3 linked regions of the Homo sapiens genome follow. The protein of the gene in region 2 purifies or fractionates together with the protein of the main gene of each other region. This does not show direct contact. Each region holds a gene or a part of one and is shown on either strand. Other genes may lie near its edges. The genes, in order: LGALS9, LMCD1 and PPP4R2.

Region 1 (3,650 bases), on a different chromosome or scaffold from region 2:
CAGAATAATTAAGTCACTTGTCCGAGGTCACACAGCTGTCTACAAATCAAAGTATGTTGCTCCCTGGCTTGAAACACTCCTGAGGCTTTTCACTGTGTTAAAATCCAAGCTCCTTTCCATGGCTGCAAAGCCCTACATCAGTCATTTTCAACTCTGACTGCAGAGTATAATCACTTAAGGCATATTTTTAAAATACGAATGCCCAGCTGACTGCCTCATTGGCCTGGGCTGGGGTCCCAGCACTGATATTTCCTTTGTAAGCTCTCTGGGTGATTTGAATATGTAGTCAGGGTGGAGCACGCCTGCCTGCTGTTCCTGGACAGGCCACACCCGTGCCTCTGCACGTTGGCCCTAGCTGCCCCTCCCAGGCTCGCTCTATCTCATCGCTCTGTTTTGCTTTGTGCGTGGCACTGTCGTTATCTGTGACAATCTGTCCATGCTTTACTTTCCTTGTTCTTTCCCCACCTAAATTATAAACTCCCTGGAGGCAGGACCCTGTCTGTGTGCTTCATGACTGTGCCCCCAGCATGTGGGGTGCTTCCTGCGCAAAGCAGGCGACAAGAAAATGGTTGTTGAGTAAATGAAGAAATGAATAACACCTCCTTCTTGGGTCTGATTTGACACTTACTGACTGTGTGACCACAAGCAAGTAACCTGCACTTGTGAGTTTGTTTCCTCATCTGAAAAAGCAGATCCCAGCACTTCCTTCATGCGGGACAGTAATAATAATAATAATTTGTTGGCCACCTTCTCTTCTTTTGGGCCTTCATCCCAGAGGAATCAGCCCCCATACTGTTCAAGGTACCTCAAACCTCCTTTACCCCCTCCCCCTGTGCACCCATGGGAGCCTCTCCAAGCTCCAGACTGCGGTGCCTTACTGAGAAGCTCTGGCCACGGACGAAGGGCATTTTTCGGGGCAGACTTCGCTCCTCAGACCCCCAGGAGTTGTCGATCTGGGTGTTGCGGACCACAGCATTCTCATCAAAACGGGGGTTCAGGTGGAAGGCGATGTGGTTCCCAGAGCACAGGTTGATGTGGAACCTGGGGTGGGCAGCCCACCTGAACCTTTATCCACCGAATTCTGAGTCCCATTTCCTCCCCATCATCAGTAGCCTTCCTGAAGCCAGGGGAATGGCTGGACTGACCTTGAAGGGCTCTCTCTTCCCAGAGGTCACTGGAGCCCTTGGCTTACCTCTGAGCACTGGGCAGGACAGTGCCTGACAGGAGGATGGACTTGGATGGGTACAGCCCTCCCAGAATGGTGGTGATGAAAGGCATCGGCTGTCGGAAGAAGGGGGACAGGTCAGCCACCACGCGGAAGGGGAAGATTGTACCAGTTCCCATGAATTTGGGCTGTCAGCTGAGAAGAAGCCCATGATATCTTTACTTGGTTCCATAAAAGCCAAAGGAAAACTTTCCAGTGCTCCTCAAATTAATGGGCTTAGATTAGTGTCATGAAAGGAACTTTGGCCAAACACAAAAAGACTCGTTTCGTGGGGTGAAAAGGGAGGGACATGCAATGTGCTCATATTGACACGACAGTTTTAAGGTTGAAAGCTCCTCTCCACAGCCTTCTAATTCGCTGGGATGCTTTGAAGCCCTTCAGCTTAACAAATGACTGCTTTTAATTTTTCAAGGCCAGTGGATCCCCCCACAGCGGCCCTTCACCCCCAGCCTGCCCACCACAAACAGAACCTCTGCCCTCCCTGAGAAACCACTTACATAGGCGGGGTGGGGGTACATCATAGGTGGGATGGCGGGAGTCTGTTGAAAAGAAACCAGGAAATTCAATGGGAGAGCACATGGGTGCGCGAGCACTCACCCAGGCGCACCCACGCGTTCTAGAGAGGACTCCACTGTGAGGCTGACCTCGTGAGCCTTTGGCCCTTGGACTCGCCCGTCTACCTCCCTTTTCATGTTAGCCTTCCTGGAACTTCCTGCCGTGTTCCCAGACCACACCACGGTCACCTGCCCCTCAACCCCTCCGCAGGCAGCCCCACTAATTCTAAGCCCCCCTGCCTCATTTGCACCATCAGGAGAAGAGCTTAAGCCTGTGATCAATAGTGACATCCTGGGGACCCAGGATGCAGGGCCAGGAACCTCACATCCGGGTGCTGGGGCCACTGTACTCCCCACTTGGTGACAGATGGACCAGTTTCCCTCCCGGTCTCTAGGGGACTTGTCTCTTCCACCACTGGATAAACCCTGCTTCTTCCAGAATCTCTGCTGTCCCAAGGACAGCTTTAGCCACATGTCACCTGAGCCAAGCACTCAGCCCCTAGTGTCCCCATCCTCCTTGCTAAACCGCTTTCTTCCCGACTCTAGGGCTCTAGGGAGTTTAGTTTTTGGTGAAGGAGGACACTGTGCAGCTGTGAACTGACCAGAACTTGTAGACTTACAGAGAACATCTGTCCAGGGGCGCTCTGCACTGTGTGGATGACTGTCTGGGTCTGGAAGAAAGAAACCAGGTCTCACCCAGGCTCTCACGTGTGAAAACCACCAGCTCCCACCAGAGGGCGCCACACGGCAGGCACCCTCCAGGGGGCGTAACAAGCCCAATGGCCCCACAGACCCCACAGAGGGTGGGCCCAGGTGTCTCTTCTCTCAAGGGGATGAGCGAGGGGCAAAGGTTAGAACCCTGGAGAAGACAGATGGGGACGCTGGTGGCTCTGGCCCATCTTTCCTCTCGGGGAAACGTCTCTCAGCCTAGCCTCCCTTTGCAGGTGACAGAAGTGAATGTGGGGCATGGTCTTCCGTGGCTGCCCACGGGGTGGCAACTCAGGTTGTTTCATCCAACCCCCACATCCAACCCCCAACCTCACCAGGCCGGGCAGATGGTCAAGGGTCTGGTCTGTGCCCTCCCCACTCCCAATGGGAGAGGCCCAATGCCTGGCCCTGCCTCCTCCATGAGCCCAGAAAAGCCAAAATGAGGACGATCCAAAAAGAAAGCAAGAGACTTACAATGGGAGCCGGGTTGGCAGGCCACACGCCGGGAGGCTGGAGGGGTGAGGAGAGTCAGAATGGTGGTTATCGCGGGCACCACAGAATGGGAGGAGATGGTGGCAAAACTCCAGGGAGGCTCTTGTGCTCAGAAATGCCTCCCCGGACACACCCACCTCCCTCTTGCTCCCAAGCAAGCCTTCCTGAGCCCGTGGCACCCAGATTTTTACCCCCAGGTGTACAGGGCTTTGGGGTTGGGGGGTAGGGTATCCCCACTGGTTCCTCTCGAGAGAGAGGAGACTGGGTTTGATAGAGACCTCATTGCTTTCTGTAGCTCCCACAGCGAAGAGCATTACTTCCAGTGCCATATTTCACCCATAAGGTGAGAAGTGGTATTTGTTGAAGGCCTATTGTGGGTCGATTCCTGGGCTTCAGTGCTTTCCAACAAGGGAAGCAGCCTCAGCTCCTGTGTCCCTAGTGAGGCAACGAGGCTCAGAAAGATTAAGCAACTTGCCCAAGCTTGCCAAGGTGGAAGGGATCAAATCCAAAGTGGCAGCCAGTTCTGTCTGACTGTATCCAGCACACTTTCTATCCTCCCCAGAGCCAGGGCCAGCGCCAGGGCCAGGGCCAAAGTTGGGCTGCCCTGCAAATGTTCCCTGGGGCTCGACCAGTCCTGAAGTCAGCGTGGCAGGAGGCAGGTGCCCTGTCTG
Region 2 (3,650 bases):
CAACAGAAAGAAAAGGAACTCCATCCTAAGACTTCTTAGAATATTTTTGGTTTTGAAACTACTGACCCTCAAGGATCTACCACCACCCAACCTAGAATATATATCTATATATATCTCATATATATATTCTCACTGAAAAGCAAATCATTGTTTATTTCACTTGCTTGCTGTCACATCGGACCCTTAGGATGGTCTCGGCACACCTGGCTCTCCTTCTCGGTGGGATCCTGTGGATTCTGGCTGTGGGTGGGCAGCCCTTCAGGAGCGTTTGGACTTGCTGCAAGTTGGGCACAGAAGCTGACCCTTGGTGACGATGTACGCCCGGCCGCTCAGCAGCTGCTCACAACCCTCACAGACAAAGTGCTTTCGGTGCCAGGCCAGATCTTCCACACGCTGGTAGTCCTCAGCGAATATTATCTGGGGAGGGGAGCAGGAGAAATGCATGACTCAGTTTCTGTCCCTAGGTAGAGACGGTATATCTAGGACAAGTTATAGGGTGGTGGTTCATCCCATCCTATTCTTGTTTTGACCTTTTAAAGCCTTAGTGGAAAAATCTGGCATAAATTTGAGGCAGTAAGGATAATATTTGGTGAAGGTTGTGGTTGCATCTTAGCTTCTCAGACGGAATAAAAAAAATCCTCCACTACAGGCAGGTTTTACTTATCTAGGTATCTGTGATACTCTTTGGGTCAAATCTAAAGTTTAGTTCCAAGGTGGGATTACACACCCTGGTGAAGAAAGCTTAAGGATAGATAAACTGCCAATGGCCAATCATCAAGAGCAAGAATACAGAGGGTCACTTGGGCTTGGAATGAAGTGACACTTGGAATAGACATATTGTAAGGATCCCCTGAGGCTCAGGAAGTGCAGAGGAGCATAATGTTTAATGGGCCTTCTAGTATTGGAGTCAAACAAGAACTGGGTATGAGTTTTCACTTAAGACATCTACCAGCTTTGTGACTTTGGGCAAATTACTTAATCCCCCTGTGCCTCAGCTTCCACATCTGTAAAATGGGGATATAAATACTTTCCATCCCACAAGGTTCTATGATTGCCAAATGACCAACTACATATGAAAGGCTTAGAATGTTGACTGACACAAAGTCAGGGCTATCTAATTAGCATTGACCTTTCAGAGCTGCACTTTTCTTAAACGTGAAATGAGAAAAAATCATGCTTATCTCTCCCTAAAGGATTGTTGTGATATAAATAGCATGTTGTACGTAAAGTATGTAGCAAATTACTGACCCACCGTAAGCCCTTAATAAATGATAGAGAATTGTTATTGTGCATATACTGTTGTCACTTCAAAAATGAGGCTCCAGGGCAGGCCTGTGACAGTCCTTTTCCTTCTTAATATCACTTAATAACAGAGTTATTAGGTAAGAGGACTACAGGGTCTTAACTTCATATGGTGACCAATTCGTAGAAGGTGGTAGAAAATAGATGTTGGTTCAATATAAAGAAGACATTTCTAACCTTCATACATGCCAAAGATGAAGTTAGTATATTGCCTGCAACCAAAGGCATGCAAATAGTACATACTATGATCATAATTAGTATTGCCATTATTAATACACCTTAGAGTTACTTTCATCAAACCAGTATCAGAGACTTGAATCTCTTTCATAGCATCTCTATCATATTGTATTGTATTGTGTCATATTAATGTTAAGTCTCATATTATAGTATATTATCGTAAGACTAACAGCAGCTACCATTTATAAGTTCCTAGGTCAGGCCCTGTGGCAAGCATTTTCATGCATTATCTCATCTATCCTCATAGCCACTCTATGGGATGGGCGCTGGTCTCATCCCTATTTTATAAGTAGTAAAACTGAGACTCAGCTGAGGCTCCGGAGTTAGGTAACCACATGATAATAATAATAAGAGATGCAGATACAGGTTTGAACGTGGGCAATGCCTCCTGGTTCATCCTGCTATGTTCTGAGTACTTACTAAGTGCTAGGCATTATGCCAAGGACAAGATTCACCGGCACTGTGTCTGACCCCTCCCAACAATCCCATGGTTGTCTGCCTCATTTTGCAGATGAGAAAATGAAGGTTGAGAGCATGCAGTGAGGCCTGACTTCAGTTTCCCAATCTGTAGAACACATCATCCACAAAGCCATGCTCCTCTTGGCCTCTGGGCTTTTACCCTCAGCAGTGTCCCTCAAGCCCCCTAACCCATCTCGCGGCTATCTCCCACCTCATCGCAGCCGGAGCACCGGGGCCGCAGACTCTCGCAGTAATGGCGGCCGCACCAGGGTGCACCATCCTTCCAGAAGTAGATGAGGTCCACCAGCGGCTCGGAGCACTTGGCACACACAAAGCAGGTGGGGTGCCACTGCTTGTTGTAGCCTGCCCTGTCCGAGTAGACCACGGGGCTGTCAGGAGGGGCCGCTCCCTTGCAGAGCTCGCAGACCTGGAAGGATGGGGAAGGACCATAGGAGACAAGGAAGTCAGGAGAGCACAGTGACATGGGTTCGAATTCCAGCTCCAGCCTTTCTACTTCCTGGGTGACCTTGGGCAAGTCACTATACCTCTTCGTGCCTCAGTTTTGTCATCTGCAAAGCGACACAATAATATTGCCTACCTAACAGGCTATTCACGAGGACTAAATAAAGTTATTTATTTAGCACAGTGATTCCCAAATTGTTTGGTCTCAGTACCCTTTATACTCTTAAAAATTATCAAGACCCCTACAGAGTTTTTGTTCATGTGGGTAATAGCTATTGATATTTACCATAAGAGAAATTAAAACTGAGAACAATTTAAATTTTTTTAATTCATTTAAAAATGACAATACTAAACCTGTAATACATTAACATACCTATCTTGTTACTAAAATAACTATATGTTTCAAAACAAAAAAAGTAGAAGAAAATTTTAAGACATTGTTTTATATATCTGCAAATCTCTTCAATGACTTGCAGAAGATTGCTGGATTCCCATAACTGCTTCTGCAGCCCATCTTTTGCATGCTGTTGTTTTGGTTGAAATACATGAAGAAAATCTGAACTCACACTGACATAAAGTTGGAAAAAGGAGGACGATGCATTTTAAAGGACCTTCCAGGCAACTGTGGATATTCTTCTTTGATACTACAGTAAAATTTGACACAGGATACTTTCTCAAGTTAGTTGCAGTGTGAAATCTGAAAGCACATCAGTGAACCTTTCATATTTGTTTACATTAAAACCTGTTTGTTTACCTTGCACTTTGAATGGATCTTTTTACCCGTGCATGAAGAGTTTTAAATAATATTTAATAAATAATATTTTTGCCTAGAAGTGGTGCCTTATGCCTTTAATTCTAGCACGTTGGGAACTGGAGGTAGGAGGATCATTTGAGGCCAGGAGTTTGAGACCAGCCTGGGCAACATAGCAAGACCCCATCTCTACAAAAAAATTGAAAAATTAGCCAGTTGTGATGGTGCTCATCTGTAGTCCTAGCTACTCAGAAGACTGAGGTGGGAGGACTGCTGGAGCCCAGGAGTTTGAGTTTGAGGCTGCAGTGAGCTATGATCGTGCCACTGCATTCCAGCCTAGGTGACAGAGTGAGACCTTGTCTCAAATAATAATAATAATAATATTTGAGTAGTTCTAGAGTTACAGAAAAATTGCAAAAACAGCACAGAGAATTTCTAT
Region 3 (3,650 bases), about 64 Mb from region 2:
ATGACCTCAACATTACTGGGATCTGTGACAGAGAGAAGTCAAGGTGTATTTCAAAGGCCTAGGAACAGGAGAATCATAAAATAGCCAACAGGTACTCATTGGAAATCACTGCAGACCAATTTGAGAACAGCAGCTGAAACTGAGATGGATTTTGCCAACTCTAGCAATGAGTGAATAGACTGCTCTGAGTTCGAAAAGACGAAGCAGGTCTTGCTCACTTGAGCTCTTGAAAGTGACCCAACAGTGCTCCAATCTAGAGGTAAGCCCCACAATGAGGAGAAAGAGTCAAGAGAAATGAAGACAAGGTTCAAAAAAAAGCAGAAGTGGAGAACACAGCCTGGAATTTCAGAATGCAAACTGCCGTGTTCTTAAAACACTTCACAAAACCAACGAGAGTGCTCCATGTAGTTAGAAAAGCTACTCTGGGCCAAGTGTGGTGGCTCACGCCTGTAATCCCAGCACTTTGGGAGGCCGAGGCAGGTGGATTACGAGGTCAGGAGTCAGCCTGGCCCATGTGGTAAAACCCCGTCTCTACTAAAAATACAAAAACTAGCCAGGCATGGTGGCGCGCGCCTGTGGCCCCAGCTACCAGGGAGGCTGAGACGGAAGAATAGCTTGAACCTGGAGGCAGAGGTTGCAGTGAGCCGAGATCATACCACTGTATTCCAGCCTGGGCAACAGGGCGACACTCCATCTCAAAAAAAAAAAAAAAAAAAAAAAAAAATTGTGGCATATTCATACGATGCATCTACTCAGAAATAAAAAGAAATACAAACTATGTTGAATAGAAGAAGCCAAAGAATACATACTGTATGGTTCCATTTACATAAAATTCTAGAACTCACAAACTAATCTACATTGACAAAAAGTTGCTTGGAGGGAAGGCAGCACACACAGGGAGGGAAGATTACAATGGGGCATGAGCAAACTTCTGGGAGTAATGAATGAACATGTTCACAATCTTGATTGTTGTGATGGTTTCCTGAGTGTAGATATGAAAACTTAGCAACCTGTACATTTCGAATAAATACAGTGTATTGTATGTCAATTATACCTCAATAACACTGATTTTTTTTTTTTTGCAGACAGAGTTTCACTCTTGTTGCCCAGACTGGAGTGCAACGACGTGAGCTCGGCTCACTGTAACCTCTGCCTCCCGGGATCAGGTGATTCTCCCGAGTAGCTGGGATTACAAGCATGCACCGCACCCAGCAAATTTTGTATTTTTAGTAGAGATGGGGTTTCTCCATGTTGGTCAGGCTGGTCTTGAACTCCCGACCTCAGGTGATCCGCCGGCCTCAGCCTCCCAAACTGCTGGGATTACAGGCGTGAGCCACCGCACCCGGCCCGTAACACTGCTTTTTAAAAAAGGACTCAAAAGAAGAATTCAAGACAAAATGATAAGTACTGAAGATATGCAAAGATGCAGCAATATAGTCTCCCTCCCCTCCCCAACAAAAAAACCAAAGACAACAATTCACTTTCTTGAAATATTTAATATTTTTTAAAAATTTAAAAATTCATATTGAAAGACTACACCACCAGTGTGTAGATAAGTGGATAAAAAAAAAAAAAAAGACCACACCATATACCTGAGTACAATGACTCCAAAATATCCAACATTGATTTTCAAAATGCTTTTAAAGATCTAGTCTATAAAAACCACTGTATTTTGGCCGGGCGCAGTGGCTCACACCTGTAATCCTGACACTTTGGGAGGCGAAGGCGGGGAGATCACGAGGTCAAGAGTTTGAGACCAGCCTGGCCAATATGGTGAAACCCCGTCTCTACTAAACATACAAAAATTAGCCAGGCATAGTGGTGGGCACCTGTAATGCCAGCTACTGGGAGGCGGAGATTGCGGTTAGCGGAGATGGCGCCACTGCACTCCAGCTTGGGCAACAGAGCAAGACTCCGACTCAAAACACACACACACACACACACACACACACACACACACACACACACACGACTCCGACTCAAAACACACAAACACACACACATGACTCCGACTCAAAACACACACACACAAACAAACAAACAAACACACACACACACACACACACACACCCCACACTGTATTTTAAAGAAAAAAATCTTTTAGGAAGGTAGGCAAAAAGATTGGGCAGTTTATAAGGTAAAAAAAATTATCATCAGATGTTAACAGCTGGCCAGGCATGGTGACACCTCTGTAATCCCTGCACTTTAAGAGGCCAACAAAGTGGGCAGATCACTTAAGCTCGGGAGTTCAAGCTCAGGAGACCAGCCTAAAAACATGGTGAAACCCCATCTCTACAGAAAACACAAAAATTAGCCAGGTGTGGTGGCATATACCTGTAGTCCCAGCTACCGGGAAGGATGAGGTGGGAAGACAGAGTTTACAGTGAACCAAGATTGCATCACTGCACTCCAACCGGGGCAAAAGAGCAAGACTCTGTCTCAAAAATAAATAGATTTTAACAGTTTTACTGGGGGGAAACAATAGAATTAACAAACTTAAGACACTCAAGGATAGAAAATGTGAACCAAAGATTTTACTTCCAGCCAAAGTGACCTTCAAGATTAAAGGGCACATGCCAGGCACGGTGGCTCATGCCTATAATTCCAGCTCTTAGGGAGGCACAGGCGGGAGGATAGCCTGAGCCCAGGAGTTTGAGACCTGCCTGGGCAATATAGCGAGACCCCATGCTCAACAAAAAGGGGAAATAAAAAGGGGGGCAAAAAAAAAAAAAGAATAAAAGGCACAGACAACATACAAGACATACACATAAGAACTCCAGGCCAGGCGCAGTGGCTCATGCCTGTAATCCCAACACTTTGGGAGGCCGAGACAGGCAGATCACTTGAAGTCAGGAAATTGAGACCAACCTGGCCAACACGATGAAACCCCATCTCTACTAAAAATACAAAAGTTAGGCCAGGCACAGTGGCTCACGCCTGTAATCCCAGCACTTTGGGAGGCCAAGACAGGCAGATCACCTGAGGTCAGGAGTTCGAGACCAGCCCAGCCATCACAGAGAAACCCCGTCTCAACTGAAAATACAAAAAAGTAGCCGGGCGTGGTGGCATGCACCTGTAATCCCAGATACTCAGGAGGCTGTGGCAGAAAAATCGCTTGAACCCAGGAGGTGGAGGTTGTAGTGAGTCAAGATCGCACCACTGCACTCCAGCCTGGGCAACAGAGCAAGACTCTGTCTCAAAAAAAAACAAAACAAAAAAAAACTCCAGAAATATTGTTTCAATTAGCCGCTTTTCAATAATCTATTAAAGAATAAGCTTCATTCAGACAACCAAACTGACGAGAGACAGAGAGAATACAATGACAATGACATAAGGACTGGTTGTAGGCATGAGATATATACCTACTGTAAAACTAAGATTGACAGTTAAAAGGGAAAGTCAGCCGGGGCAGTGACTATGCCCGTAATCCCAGCACCTTTGGAGGCAAAGGCAGGGGGAGGATCACTTGAGGCCAGGAGTTCGAGAACAGCCTGTTCAACACAGCGAAACCCCGTCTCTACTAAAAACACAAAAATTAGCCAGGCAATGGTGGCACGTGCCAGTAACCCCAGCTACTCAGGAGGCTGAGGCACAAGAATCACTTGAACCCAAGAGGCAGAGGTTGCGGTGAGCTGTGATCGCACCACTGC

The links.
Region 1: the proteins of LMCD1 (region 2) and LGALS9 purify together in Homo sapiens (co-immunoprecipitation; one large-scale study listed by IntAct). This does not show direct contact.
Region 3: the proteins of LMCD1 (region 2) and PPP4R2 purify together in Homo sapiens (co-immunoprecipitation; one large-scale study listed by IntAct). This does not show direct contact.

Annotation. Positions count from the first base shown.
Region 1 is NC_000017.11:27,644,661-27,648,310, reverse strand, and holds part of LGALS9 (galectin-9), read right to left. Parts: intron 2,998-3,650; coding exon 2,962-2,997; intron 2,451-2,961; coding exon 2,400-2,450; intron 1,765-2,399; coding exon 1,723-1,764; intron 1,282-1,722; coding exon 1,193-1,281; intron 1,042-1,192; coding exon 879-1,041; intron 1-878. UniProt on the Homo sapiens protein: Binds galactosides. Has high affinity for the Forssman pentasaccharide. Ligand for HAVCR2/TIM3. Binding to HAVCR2 induces T-helper type 1 lymphocyte (Th1) death.
Region 2 is NC_000003.12:8,564,207-8,567,856, reverse strand, and holds part of LMCD1 (LIM and cysteine-rich domains protein 1), read right to left. Parts: intron 2,426-3,650; coding exon 2,210-2,425; intron 418-2,209; coding exon 259-417; 3' UTR 1-258. UniProt on the Homo sapiens protein: Transcriptional cofactor that restricts GATA6 function by inhibiting DNA-binding, resulting in repression of GATA6 transcriptional activation of downstream target genes. Represses GATA6-mediated trans activation of lung- and cardiac tissue-specific promoters.
Region 3 is NC_000003.12:73,003,265-73,006,914, reverse strand, and holds part of PPP4R2 (serine/threonine-protein phosphatase 4 regulatory subunit 2), read right to left. Parts: intron 1-3,650. UniProt on the Homo sapiens protein: Regulatory subunit of serine/threonine-protein phosphatase 4 (PP4). May regulate the activity of PPP4C at centrosomal microtubule organizing centers.